Homo sapiens: one gene and its partner. The protein of the gene in region 1 purifies or fractionates together with the protein of each later gene. This does not show direct contact. Each region holds a gene or a part of one and is shown on either strand. Other genes may lie near its edges.

Region 1 (3,830 bases):
CACAACAGCAAATCTGATAACCAAAACAGCTAAGCTACTGAGTGACAATTGGGTGGGTAGGGTAGACAGTGTGGATATGCTGCACAAAGGATGGAGTGAGACAGTGCAAGATTTCATCATGTTCTCAGAACTGTGTGCAATTTAAAATTTACAAGTTATTTCCAGAATTTTCCATTTAATATTTTCAGACTGCAGTTCATCATGGGAAACTGAAACCTCAGAAAGCAAAGCCAAAGATAAGAGGGGCCTACTGTACTCCATGTTTGTGCAGGAGTAGGGCTGACCCTGTTACTTACGTAGTTTCAAACATAGAATTAGGATCACCTTCTCTAGTTCTCTTCTACATGGGATTTCGGCTACACTTTACAGTTTTTGTGGGCCCCTTTTGTTATGGCCAAAAGGATCAGGCTGTCTTAAAGATTTTGCCTTATGCTGCCATTCACTTCTAAGTACTTGGGGCTGCCCTCGAGGTAAAATATCAAGAAAAAGAGAGAAAGAGTATCGGGATTCCCCCACACACTCTCTTTCCAGTTCCTCTATTCAGAGAGACAGTGTTCTCTTTTATTCTTAGGAAACCTCACAGCCTGGCAGTGGCAGTGCAAATCTATGTTTGGAGCTGGCTTTGTGGCAGGGCCAGCAGACCAAAACGGAAAGAAAAAAATCGGGATTTCCCTACAATTTCTGTGTGGCAGGAGCCCCTTTTCTTCTACACAGTTCTCAATTCAGCCTGCTTTTAAGTGAAAGCCAGAAGATAAAGGAGGAAAAAAGAAACAAGGAAACTGAAACTTATTGGTATGTCTTATTTCTTAAACTGGGTGTTAGGCATAAAGATGTTCTTTTTACTATTATTCTTTAGACTTTATTCATACTTTATTCTTTTGTATGAATGAATTACTTTGCACAGAAGGAAATGAAGCAAAAATAAAAGGAAATAAAAATCGAAAACCTGGCCCATGACCATGGAAATTGGTCGAGTTCTGACTGAAGCAAATCCAAAATTGTTCTACAGGGAACAAGAAAAATTTTATTGTAATCTAGAATGTAAAGGATTTTCAGAAAAGAGAACTCCCGCTGAAGATGAGCTATAAATAAAAATTTATAAGCCATGACAAGAAATAAACCACCATGAAACAGAGTTTGTTTATGTAGCAAAAGAGAAACAGCAACCTCATAACAGAACAGACTAGAATAATTTTGCATCAGTATGTTTAAAATAATTAAAAAGGCAAGAGAAGGTAAAGAAACCACAGTAAAATAAACGGAGCAGTTTAAAATAAGAGAAAATAGATTTTTTAAAGAACCAAATAAATATTCTAGAAATGATAATATAGTCATTGGGATGAAAAATTCAATGCAGATATTAAACAATGGATTAGCAAAGATTGGGAAGGAATTAATGAATTAGAACATAGATTTGAGGAAATCATCCAGAATGAAATACGAAAAGATGAAGAGGCATAAATCATATAAACACAGTTAAGGGATATGGATGACAGAATGAGAAATTAAAATACATGTCTAAATGAGAGCTCCAAAAGTAAAGAATAGAAAGAGCAAGGAAACGCTGAAGGTTTATAAATTGGAGACTTTAGACAAAGAAAGCGTATTGACTTCTGAGCAGGACAAATAAAACTAAACCATATTAACAATATTCTAACAATCTTCCATAAAATAAAAGAGGCAACATTTGCCCTTCTAATTTTACCCTAATATCAAAACCAGAAAAAGACATGAAAGAATACTTTGGACCAATATCCTTCATGAAAATAAAATGTAAAAATCCTCACAAATTTAGCAAGTTGAATCTAGCAATTTATAGAAAAGATAATGATGGCAGTGGCTGGTGCCATCACGCTGGCTGCAGTAGGGAGGAAAGGCTGAGACTGCAGACCCAGGCCTCCCACTCCATGGGGCAGTCAGGAGCCCCACCCTCCTGGACGGTGCTACAGCCGCCCAAACTGCAGCTGTAGATCTGAGCCTCCCTGCGCTCTTGAAGTGGGGCTGGGAACAGGCAGGATCTGCCCTCTTGGGTGCAGCTGCAGCCGCCTGACCAGCAGCTGCTGACCTGGGCCTCCCACAACATGGAGCAGGCAGGAGCTGGGGAATCCCGCCCCTGCTGAGTTGGCCTGCGGGAGCTCCCTGGGTGCAGCTGCCACTGCCCTCTCACCCACGGGACCCAGGCATCTCTGCAGCCTGTACCCTCTGGTGCCCCGGAAGGCCCCCCATCCCTGCAGGCTTGGGGTGTCTGCTCCCGCTGCCTGACCTCTCTCCTCTCCTGGAGCTGGCTCAGATCTTGGAGTGGGGTTGGGGTTGAGCCCTGGGGCCATGAATGGCAGCGGGAGGCAGACAGATTCTTGGGTGGAAGGGGGCAGGTCCCCAGTAAGGCTCTACCTTCAGTCCAGGGAGGGCCTGAAGGCTGGGGGCCAACTGCTGGTCCTGCATACCAGTTTGGGGACTCATGGGGCCTCTTCCAGCAGCCCATGGCTGCCCATGGACCAATCAGCATGCACTTCCTCCCCTCTGAGGTCCATAAAAGCCCTGGGCTCAGCCAGAGCAGGGCAGACGATGGCCAAAGGACGAAGAGGATAGACAGACTACACAAGGACCAGCTGCAGAAAGGAGCTACCGTCTCTGCCGAGAGCTTCAGAGACAACCTGCCAGCAGACAGGAGGCACCCTCTCCAGGGCCTCCTCTCCACTGAGAGCTGCAGACATTGGGACAACCAGTAGTAGAGAGGAGCTACCCTCTCCAGGGCCACCTCTCTAATGAGAACTGAATGCTGGACAGATGATCTTCCTACAGAGAGGAGCTACCCACTGTGGGTCTCCTCTGAGCTCTTGTAACACTTAATAAAGCTCATCTTCGTCTCGTTCACCCTTCACTTGTCTGCGTACCTCATTCTTCCTGGATGCAGGACAAGAATTCGGGCAAAGGTGCTGTGGCCACAGAGGTTTCTGGCCAGGAAATTGACAACCCAAAACTCCCTGACAATAACATGATGAAATGTAGCTTATTGAGGGAATGAAACACTTGAAAATCAATCACTGTAATACACATATCAATAAATCAGAAGAAAAACAATATGATCATCTTCATAGATACAGAAAAAGCATTTGACAAAATGCAACATTCACTTATGATAAAAAGTCTAAGCAAATTAGAAAGTAAACTTCCTTAACTTGCTAAAGGGCATCTTTAAAAATCTACTGCTAACTTCCTAATTGTTGTTGAAATTTCCCTCATAAATAGGAAATAAATCAAGGATTTTTGCTTTTGCCACTCCAACTCAATATTGTAGTGGCGGTCTTAGCCAGTGCAATAACACTAGGAAAGAAAAGCCATACAGATGAGAAAGGAAGAAATAAAACTGTCTATTTGCAGTTTCACATAGAGATTTCAAATAGAATTAGTACCTATATATATTCATTAAATACTTCTCAATGTTGATAGTTATTAGTTAAGATTGTTGAGTTTATTAATATTTCATAAGAATAATAGAAGTCATAAGATATATCTCTTTTTAAATAGTTTATAATTCAGAAAGTTAAATTCTTATGGCTTTTCTCTTAAGCTAAATTGCTGAATTCTTTGTTTTGGTTACCTTTTCTTCTGAAAACTCTCTTATGACCTCTGCTGTCCATTTATTGAACATAAATCATTAAATAAAATATTCGTTGACATTTATATCTAGATGGTAAGAAATCTTCTGCCCATCTGATTATTTGAGTCAGTTTTAGGAAACAATATATGCTAAGAAATGCTTTAAAATTGTTTTCTTATAAATGTAATATATTTTCACTATTGATAACACACAAAAAATTGCAGTAACC
Region 2 (2,750 bases), on another chromosome or scaffold:
GTGACATCTTGACATATCACCCTTAAATAACGCAGTATATGTGTCCCAACAATAAGGACATTTTCACATGTAATTGCAATATCATCATTATACCAAAGAAATGTAATATTATCATCTCATATGTAATTTCTTCCAGTCTCCAAAATATTTTTTATGGCTTTTGATTTCTGATTAAGGATCCAATGGATTTCCATGCACTGCCTTTGGTTATGTCTTTTTAAACTATAGAACAGTCCCCTTGTCATTTTGATTTGTGCTCTTCATGATTTTGACTTTTTTCTATAGTCCAGGCTCATTGCCTTGTAGAATACCCATTTTCCAAATTTGTCTATTGTTTCATTATTAGAATTGTAGGTGACATAATTCCAAACATATTTTACACACATATACTGTTACTTGAAAATGAGCAAACTAAGTTTAGCTTAGAAAAGAAAAGGTTTAGGAGCTTCTTTTGACGGTCACACTGGCTGTCAGATCTATAAGGACAAGTCATCAAGTTGTTTAAAGAAATGAATTTTCAACAATTGTGTGAAGCTATCTGCTGGGTGCAGGAAATAAAAAAATGAATAAATAATAGTCCCTGCCCTCCATAAACTGAAATCTAGGGCATGAGAAAAACACAAGTGACTGTAACTCAGGGCAGACTGATAGCTGGGAAAATGTCTCAAGAGAACAGAGAAAGGACAGTAATTTAATCTGGGAGGATCTGGAAAGGTGCCACAAAGAGCTAGGATGTAGATACACTTAAACAGTGGGTGGGTCTTTTTTTTATTTTTTTAATTAACAAATAATAATTGCCCATATTCATGGGGTACACAATGATATTTCCATACATATAATGTGTAGTGATCAGATCAGGGTAATTAGCATATCCATCATCTCAAACACTTATCATTTCTTTATGTTGGAAACATTCAACAACTTCCTTCCAGCTATTAGCTATTTGAAACTACACATTATTGTTAACTACAGTCATCCTACAGTGGTACAGGATATATTAAACAATAAGTATATTTCTTAAAACATGAGCAATGGCTTGGAAGACAGCACAGGTACAGAGATTGTGTGCCTAGTATGGTGCGAGAGGAGATAGGAAAATAGGCTGAAGAAAGATGGTGGTAGTTTATTTCCAATTTTTATGGATACATAATAGTTGTACATATTTATGGGGTACATATGATATTTTGATACAAACATACAACGTATAATGATCAAATCAGGGTAATTGGGGTATCCATCACCTCAAACATTTATCATTTGTGTTGAGAACATTCCAAATCCACTCCTTTATTGTGAAATATACAATAAATTATTAACTGTATTTACCCTATTGTGCTACCAAACAACAGATCATATTCCTTCTATAGATTTTTACACCCATTACCCAACCCCTTTATCCTCCCACCCCCCAACCCCCATTACCCTTCCCAGCCTCTGCTATCCTGTTGTATTCACTACCTATAGTGGTAGATTCTGAATGTAATTTGATTCCATGCATATTCATTCTAAGTGTATCTATTGACAGTTTCTATCTGCTTGGGTGTGGGGCATGATACAATCCCATTTAACTCAGAGAGATCTCTGTGGCAGAATGTGTTGGCTGGGGCAATATCCAAAGTTTAAGCAGTTTAAGAAGCTACTGCAAAATCCAGGTAGGCTGTAGTAAAGCCTGAAGCACGCGATGTAAAACAAAGCAATGGTTACTGGCTGGATGTAGGGAGCAAGGATGAAGTCAAATGATTTTTTTTAAGGATTTATATGCCTTTAGATAAAATATGAATTAAGATGCCTAAAACATGTAGCCTCTGGCTAACCCTAGACTCCAAGAGAAGCTCCCAGCCAAGTCTCCTGGAGACCACCGGAAATGAGTCATCACACTATAATCCACTGCCAAGTAATGATTCTGGATCCCGTCCACCAATTCACCCACAGACTTCATGTTCTCAGCAGCACAGTGATGTGACAGGAAGCATCATAGAAATGAGATTTCATTTAATGGCCTGAGAAGCTAAGGTTAGAATTGGGGTTCCGAACTGAAATACTTCCAAGGCCCAGCAGATAAGTGAGTAAAGTGGGTCCCTTAGCCTTGGTGTCAGGGAGACAATCCAGGATGGTGGGCCATAGAGCAAACCATGGAGTGCATACCCTGAGCAAGGGTGTAGCCACCCGACAGGTGGAGTCACTCAGCTCCACCCAAGTGTTGTCATTCAAGACTGTGGGCTCAGTGTTGTCGAAACGGCACATTTTAAAAAAGAGCAGCTTGAAATGCAGATTTTAGATTTCCTCATTTTTAAATGCTGGCAATTGTTCAAAAACAAGATGGACAAACAGAAAAATAAACCAAAACACTGTGAAGGACAAATAGCACATTGTGTGAAAACACAATGGAGCCCACAAGATGCAACCCTGGTGCCGAGATCTGCGGAAAGTGAAGAGAATTGAGAAGGAAGTTGCTGGGAGGACTAGAAAATCTCTATTAATCAGAATCCAGAGCACTCCACTGAGAGCACAATCCAGCTGCTGGAAATAGGATTTAAGTGGAAATTCCTCCCTCTCAGTGAATAACAAATATGATGCGTATTTTCCTGATTATGGTCTTTACGTCTTACATTTTCCAACTCTCTTGATATCCCCATTTTGCAGAGTTTCGGTAGAGAATCATTCTCTTGAATAGTAATCTAATCTAGTTGTGATTTGGGTTTGCTTTGGTATTGACATTTCCTAGAGAGCTCCAACAGATACAGATAAAA

The links.
Region 2: the proteins of CCDC146 (region 1) and RAB3IP purify together in Homo sapiens (affinity purification with mass spectrometry; 3 studies listed by BioGRID and IntAct, with this or other methods). This does not show direct contact.

What each region holds. Positions count from the first base shown.
Region 1 is NC_000007.14:77,125,468-77,129,297, reverse strand, and holds part of CCDC146 (coiled-coil domain-containing protein 146), read right to left. Parts: intron 2,793-3,830; exon of another isoform or gene 2,526-2,792; intron 793-2,525; exon of another isoform or gene 572-792; intron 1-571. UniProt on the Homo sapiens protein: Essential for sperm flagellum biogenesis and male fertility.
Region 2 is NC_000012.12:69,821,199-69,823,948, reverse strand, and holds the end of RAB3IP (rab-3A-interacting protein isoform alpha 1), read right to left. Parts: 3' UTR 750-2,750; downstream 1-749. UniProt on the Homo sapiens protein: Guanine nucleotide exchange factor (GEF) which may activate RAB8A and RAB8B. Promotes the exchange of GDP to GTP, converting inactive GDP-bound Rab proteins into their active GTP-bound form.